Homo sapiens: one gene and its partner. The protein of the gene in region 2 interacts with the protein of the main gene of each other region in a biochemical or structural test. Each region holds a gene or a part of one and is shown on either strand. Other genes may lie near its edges. The genes, in order: RACGAP1 and SLC26A8.

Region 1 (3,924 bases), on a different chromosome or scaffold from region 2:
AATGTATGATTGTAACACCATGAAATAAGAGTGTAAAATGGGCAAAGATTAGATCAGATGGTACATATAGTTGTTTAGGATAGTGAGATTTTTGTTTTGCTATTAATTTTTTGTTTTTGTTTTCGTTTTGTTTTTTTTTGAGACAGAGTTTCACTCTTGTTGCCCGGGCTGGAGTGCAATGGCGCCATCTTGGGTCACTGCAACCTCTGCCTCTCGGGTTCAAGCGATTCTCCTGCCTCAGCCTCCTGAGGAGCTGGGATTACAGGCATGCACCGTCATGCCTGGCTAATTTTGTATTTTTAGTAGAGACAGGGTTTCTCCATGTTGATCAGGCTGGTCTCAAACTGCCGACCTAAGGTCATCCACCTGCTTCAGCCTCCCAAAGTGCTGGGATTACAGGCGTGAGCCACCACACCTAGCCTGTTTTACTGTTAACTTTTTGAACATAGAAGATTAATAATAAACAGTATTTTTGTATCTGCTAAATGAATGTTATAGATAATAAAGGAAATCATTTTGGACTGAAATGGTTAGGGAAGGCTTCAGTGAATTGGTGAGACTTATTCTAGACCTTGAAGGATGGAAGACCAGAATAGGAAGAATTCACAGGGAAAAAAAGAGGTATTCAGTATGCTGAACTTCTAGTAATTTTCTGAAAAATCACAATTCAAATCTTCCCTTCCTTATTTTAGTCTTCATGTTGGATTGAGAACATTTTGTTTACTCTCTGCAAGTGATTTGCTTATAAAGAACATTTGGTTTCAAGATAATCCTTCTGTCCGCCAGTTGTATTAGAGACTTTCGATACAGTGAAGCAGAAGCTGGACATTTCAGGAAAAGAATTGTCCTCACATTGTCCTCAAATGTGTTCCTATGAAAGGATCTTAAAGTACTGAGATTATCTTTGAGAATGGTTTTCCTTGACAGCAGGGAATCTATATTGTTGATTTCTTGGAAATCTCCAGATTTAGCAATGTTTGTGGGAAAGTTTTTCATTAAAACACTTTCCTGAAAAACTCCAGCAACCTTTCATTGCTTTGTCTTAAAGTATTTAACACCCTTGATGCATCTAAAAAACCTGATATATAGGTCTCTTAATAATGTTGTTTGAAGGAGGAGGAAGAAGAGGATAGAGACTTTTCCCAGGATACCCTGCAGTAAGATCTGTAATAGTCTGTTTTTCTGAAGGATGATATCTACCTCTTGGCTGGGTGATTGAAATTAAATTGGGGGCTCAAAGCAATCACATCCAGCTGAGACTCTTTCATGGTGTTTCCAGATTGCTCCCTTAGGGATACTCACAGATTGGGAATCTGTAACATACTGACTTCTCCACCTCTGGGGTTCCCCATCAATAACAGCTGAGATTCTCTAGCACCTTTTGGTTTAAAGTGCTCCACAAACTGAGTTTCTTGCTGCACGCAGGGATCGTTTCAGCTTTCCCGAAAAGGCAGCAGTCTCTGTTGTGGAAAGTGACAGCTGTTTTACAGCTGCAAAAGCAATGTACTACAATATGACTTTGTTTTTGTTTCCTTTCACATTAGTGTATCTCCTAGCTATGGACTAAATAATACATGGGGGGAAATAAACAAGTATTCATGAGGGTGAAAATGTGACCCAGCAGGAAAATTACAACTATTTTCAATTGACGTTGAATAGGGTGAGTAAATTTTAGCTTTTTGAGTTACAATTTGGCTGAGATATCAGAGTTAGTACTGATATAGAAAGATATTTTTGTCATCTATAAATAATTCCTGAGAGTCACTTCTGTAGAATGTTAATAAAAATATATGGTCCCCTAGCATATAAAGAGAAGAGGATTATATTCTGCTAGTGCCATTTTTGGATTACCCTAAGTAAATCTATGTTAGAGGAAAAAATAACTCTTCAGAAGCAGCAAACCTCATCTAGAACAGCTTGTTTAAAAGCCTAGACCTGGCCAAATTTTGCTGTTTCCTTGATTCTTCTTGGTCTGGGTTCCAGCTATAATTTGTGTTTTATATGTGTTGCTGTTTGTATGACATGTTATGGTTTGCAGGAGGTCTCTGAGTAGGTCTGCAACATATATGGTCTAATTGATATTTTTGTAACTTATCTCTTCAATGTGTTGGGTTGGAGAGAATATAGATTTTGGACTCAGACCTGGGTTTCAATGAGAACTCGACATTTATTGGTTAATTTAAGGTTTCTGGACTTAGTTGCCCATTGTCTGTAAAATGGAGATAATTAAGTTAGTGAGGCCAGGCATGGTGGCTCACGCCTGTAATCCCAGCACTTTGGGAGGCCGAGGCAAGCAGATTGCTAGAGGTCAGGAGTTCGAGACCAGCCTGACCAACTTGGTGAAACTCCATCTCTACTAAAAATACAAAAAAAAAAATTAGCTGGGCCTGGTGGTGGGCACCTGTAATCCCAGCTACTCGGGAGGCTGAGGCAGGAGAATCACTCGAACCCTGAAAATGGAAGTTGCGGTGAACCGAGATGGTGCTACTGCACTCCAGCCTGGGTGACAGAGCAAGACACCGTCTCAGAAAAAAAGTCAAATTCACTTAAAGAAAAAGTGTACGTGAAGTGTCTAGTTTAGTGCCCGAATCATTTCAAAGCACCTAGTAAATACTGGATTCTTTTCTTTCTAATTGTATAGTATTATTTTTAAAAATGGTCTAAAATTCTGAATTTACTGATATCCTTATTTGGAGACAGCCTAGGGGGGAAAACACCTAGATTTGAGAATCACTGTTTTAGGATGGAAGTAACAACTATCAGACCAAAACCAAACCTAAACAAAAGAAACTCACTTCATACCAACTAAAAGATACCTTATATTTTGGTAGTGAGATTGTAAACTTATACATTTTAAAATTTTTGTAATATTCTATGAGGTAAATAGAGCAAGTGTTATTGTTTTCACTTTATAGATGAGTCATGGAATTTAAGTGATTTACTGAAGATTATACTACTGGTAGATAGAAGAGCTAAAGGTTTGTCCCAGGACCTTTTTATTTATTTATTTATTTATTTATTTATTTTAAGAGAAGGGGGTCTTGTGATGATCAGGGTGGTCTCAAACTCCTAGACTCAAGTGATCCTCCCACTTCAGCCTCCTGAATAGCTGGGACTACAGGCACGCACCACCACACCCATCTTGTCCCAGGACTTCTGCTCCCTCTCCCGCTTTTAACTGTTCTTTTTGCTTTAAACTATATTACACGTTGATGTTGAGGTAGAATGGAAATTCTTTTGACCATAGCATCACAGATATGTGTGTGTTTGTTCTCTGAATTAACACTTATCAATTTTTTTTTGTGAGCATCATATTAAATGCTACATGCTTGTGTGTGTAATATAGTAGTGCCGCATGTAAGGTTTCTCCCCTCAAATTTATATTCTAGCTGGGACACAGGGCAGAATCATATGGTAAAGTTTAATTCAAGTGCAAAGAGTTTGTATCTGAGTGGCAACTGCCTGAAGCAGTAGGGGAAGGACTGGAGGAAGGGAGTGCAATTGAAGTGAGTGGTGACAACCTGCAAGTGATAAGGGGGTGGGTATGGTAGATACATGAGAGAAGAGTACACAAGGTTTAGTGATTATGCTGTGGGAAGGGGAGGAACCAGAGGTGATTCTGAAGTTTGGAACTGAGCGACTGAGAGAATGATAAAAATAGGGAAATCAAAATTGGAAGTCAGTAGGGTATGGGATAGGGTAGGTCAGTGAGTAGCGTAGTTGATGGACATGAACAGGAAGAGTAGAACAGTGTCAGGAGGCTGAGGCCGGAGAATCACTTGAACCTGGGAAGCAGAGGTTGCAGTCAGCTGAGGTGGCGCCAGTGGACTCTGGCCTGGGGGACAGAGCAAGATTCTGTCTCAAAAAATTAAAAAAAAAAAAATGGACAAGAGAACAGGTTATATTGTAATTTAAGACTTAAAA
Region 2 (3,924 bases):
GGGCATAGTGGTGTGCGTCTGTACTCCCAAATACTCAGGAGGCTGAGGTTGGAGGATTGCTTGAGCCTGAGAGGCCGAGGCTGTGGTGCACTGTGATCATGCCACTGCACTTCAGCCTGGGTGACAGAGTGAGACCCTGTCTCAAAAAAACAAAAAAGTAAAACATATAAAGTATCTAAGATTTTCCCATGTGAAGAAAGTCACAAAACCTTACTATGAATGAAACATTTAAGAAGACAATAAATGTAGAGACAGTTCATGTTTCTGGATAAGAAGAATGAATACTATAAAGATATAAATTCTCAAGGGATTTTATATTTTTAATACAACTCTAATGATTATTTCAATAAGATTTGTTTTTGTGGGGTGGGGACCTGACAAAAGATTCAAAAGTTGGTTTGGAAGAATAAATTGGTGAGAATGACTTAGCAAATTTTGAAATAGAACACTGATGACATAGGACTTCTTAACCAAATGTTAAAGTGTATTATACAGCAATACTAATAAAAACAGTGTGATGGCTAGGCACGATGGCTCACATCTGTAATCCCAGCATTTTGGGAGGCTAAGGTGGGCAGATCACCTGAGGTCAGGAGTTCGAGACCAGCCTGGGCAACATGGTGAAACCTCGTCTCAAATAAAAATACAAAAATAAGCCAGGTGTGGTGGCGCATGCCTGTAAGCCCAGCTACTCAGGACGCTGAGGCAGGACAATCACGTGAACCTGGGAGGCGGAGGTTGCAGTGAGCCGAGATTGTGCCACTGCACTCCAGACTGGGCGACAAAGTGAGACTCTGTCTCAAAAAACAAAAACAAAAACAAAAAACACTGTGATACTGAAGCTATACAGAAAAATGACATCCACAACTAAACTAGAAATACACTTTAGTTTTCATAAGAATATAATATTTTATGAAAATAACATATCAGTAGGGGAAAGAAGGCTTATTCAATAGATGGTTGGATGGTGGTATGATTTGCATGAGTGGCTTCCAAAATCCATCCACATTGTGGTGGTATTAAGAGGTGAGGCCTTTGGGGAGTGATTAAGTCATAAGGGCTCTGCCCTTGTGAATGGATTAGTGCCTTATAAAAGGGCTGGAGGGCTAGCATAAACCCTTTTGTCCTTCCACCTTCTGCCATGTGGGGATGCTGCTGAGAGAAGATGGAAGAAGCCCTCAGCAGACACTGAAACTGCCAGGACCTTGATCTTGGACTTCTCGCATTCAGAACTGTGAGAAATAAATATCTATTATTTACAAATTACCCAGTCTCAGATATTTTGTTATAGTAGCACTAATGAACTAAGATAGATGGCATATAGCCCAAAATAGTTAGCTACATAGATAAAAAATAAAGATTAAGCCTGAGTGCAGTGGCTCATGCCTGTAATCCCAGCACTTTGGGAGGCTGGGGCGGGTAGATCATGAGGTCAGGAGTTCAAGACCAGCCTGGCCTACATAGTGAAACCCTGTCTCTACTAAAAATATAAAAATTATCCAGGTGTGGTGGCGGGCGCCTGTAGTCCCAGCTACCTGGAAGGCTGAGGCAGGAGAATCGCTTGAACCCAGGAGGCAGAGGTTGCAGTGAGCCGAGACCATGCCATTGCACTCCAGCCTGGGTGACAGAATGAGACTGTCTCAAAAATAAAAAAAAAATAAAGATTACCCTTCAATACCTGTATACTGAAATACATTCTATTTACATTAAAGAGTATAACATATAAAAAATAAAAACATAAAAATCTAGAAAATGTGTCTTATTTACCTTCTAAGAGGGAATGACTTTCTAAATAAAAAGTAAATATAATAAGAAAAGGAAACATTAATAGATATGACTAAATATGTAAAAACAAATATATCGAGTATCATAATTATAAATTAAAAAATAGAGAAACTTCCATTTATAGTAAAAGCAGACTGCATAATTCAAACCAATTAGTTAGTCATTACTAATTATTAACTACTAGTTAACTAGTTGTTTTTTTATTAACTACCAGTTAACTAGTTGTGTGTGTGTGTGTTTTTTTGTTTTTTTTTTTAGAGTCTCACTCCGTCGCCCAGTCTGGAGTGCAGTGGCGCGATCTCGGCTCACTGCAACCTCTGCCTCCTGGGTTCAAGCGATTCTCCTGCCTCAGCCTCCCAAGTAGCTGGGACTACAGGCGCGTGCCACCACGCCCGGCTAATTTTTTTGTATTTTTAGTAGAGATGGGGTTTCACCAGGATGGTCTCGATCTCCTGACCTAGTGATTCGCCTGCCTTGGCCTCCCAAAGTGCTGGGATTACAGGCGTGAGCCATCTCGCCCGCCCGTTGTACGGTCTTAACTGTTTCAGATGTGGTGTCTCATTTCATCAACTAGGCTTTGTTTAATAATGATTTCTAGTCATTAGATAATATTAGATAATATTTTAGTGCCCATCTGTTTTAATTTCCTTTTTTTGTTTTTGGAAACCTTTAACCTACACAGGTACTGATTTGAAAATGCTAAAGTAGGCCCAGGTCTCAGTATTTTTTTTTTTTTAGACAGAGTCTCACTCTGTCGCCCAGGCTGGAGTGCAGTGGCGTGATCTCAGCTCACTGCAACCTCTGCCTCCCGGGTTCAAGCAATTCTGCCTCAGCCTCCCAAGCAACTGGGACTACAGGTGCCCGCCACCATGCCTGGCTAATTTTTGTAGTTCTAGTAGAGAAGGAGTTTCACCATGTTGGCTAGGATGGTCTCGAACTCCTGATCTCATGATCTACCTGCCTCGGCCTCCCAAGGTGCTAGGATTACAGGCGTGAGCCATCGCACTCAGCCAGGTCTCAGTATTAATAAAAGGCTGAAAATTCAGACTTATATATTATTCTCCTTTGCATTTGGTCAGCTTGAGTAAATCTCATACCACAACAATGTAAAGGTAATAAAGCTGAGGTATTAGACAAGATTATAGATCTGAATCTCTGCTAGTTCATTAGTATTATTATTCATCCCAAGAGTGGGTGGGGTGGGGAGGAATTCTAAAGGTATAGCTAGGGGAGACATTTAGAATATTTAGCAACTGGTAATAGACACTAACCAAGAATGCTGTAGAAGGATCCTTGAGGTCTGTGCTGGGTTGGGCAAACCCTCTCTTCAGTTAGGGAAATTTCTTGAATGGAACCCTGATGCCATGACAGTGAGGGCACTTGGCTGCTCAGATCCACTGCTATTTACCAAGTGGTAAGGGTGCATTTCAACATCCCAGATTCTGGTACAGCCATACTAAATACCTTTCCTGGACATTATTCCTCTATCTGATCAGGAATCCTGACTCCCAGCCCCCAACCACCCCTCACCCATCCCCCCACTGCCCTCAATCCCTTCCCCCAACCTCATGCTTTGTCGGTTTGTCTGACCTTGTCTGTTTCTGAGTAGGTTTCCCGTATCACTGTCTCGGATTCATCGATGCTTAACTCAGAGGAGCCTATGACCTTCCTTGACAAGGCAAACAGCACGGCGTCGTGAACGCTGAGGAACAGCTGGGTCTTGGTGATGCCAGCGTCAAAGAAATCATTCCTCTCAAATGCCCTGACTATGGAAGCTAAAAACCAAACCCAGAACACACACAATGTCAGATACTTGGGGAGCAGAGGACCCAGGGTGCAAAACAGCCCTCTCATAGGGTGAAGGATACTCACAGTGACACCCTGCAATGAGTATCAAAATGTTGGCGTTTTGAAAGGCATTGCATATCTGTGGGGGGAGAGAAAACCAGTATCAGAAGGCTTTATACTTGCTAGGAAAGGCCTTCTAATTAGCTAAGTTTTTGTCTTGTTTTGTTTTGGTTTTTTGTGACAGAGTCTCACTCTGTCACCCAGATGGAGTGCAGTGGCATGATCTCGGCTCACTGCAACCTCCGCCTCCCAGGTTCAAGTGATTTGTCCACCTCAGCCTCCCAAGTAGCT

What was found.
Region 1: the proteins of SLC26A8 (region 2) and RACGAP1 form a complex in vitro, tested with the Homo sapiens proteins (one study listed by BioGRID).

What each region holds. Positions count from the first base shown.
Region 1 is NC_000012.12:50,018,798-50,022,721, reverse strand, and holds part of RACGAP1 (rac GTPase-activating protein 1), read left to right. Parts: intron 1-1,544; exon of another isoform or gene 1,545-1,660; intron 1,661-2,915; exon of another isoform or gene 2,916-2,978; intron 2,979-3,924.
Region 2 is NC_000006.12:35,947,788-35,951,711, forward strand, and holds part of SLC26A8 (testis anion transporter 1), read right to left. Parts: intron 3,713-3,924; coding exon 3,658-3,712; intron 3,561-3,657; coding exon 3,376-3,560; intron 1-3,375. UniProt on the Homo sapiens protein: Antiporter that mediates the exchange of sulfate and oxalate against chloride ions across a membrane. Stimulates anion transport activity of CFTR.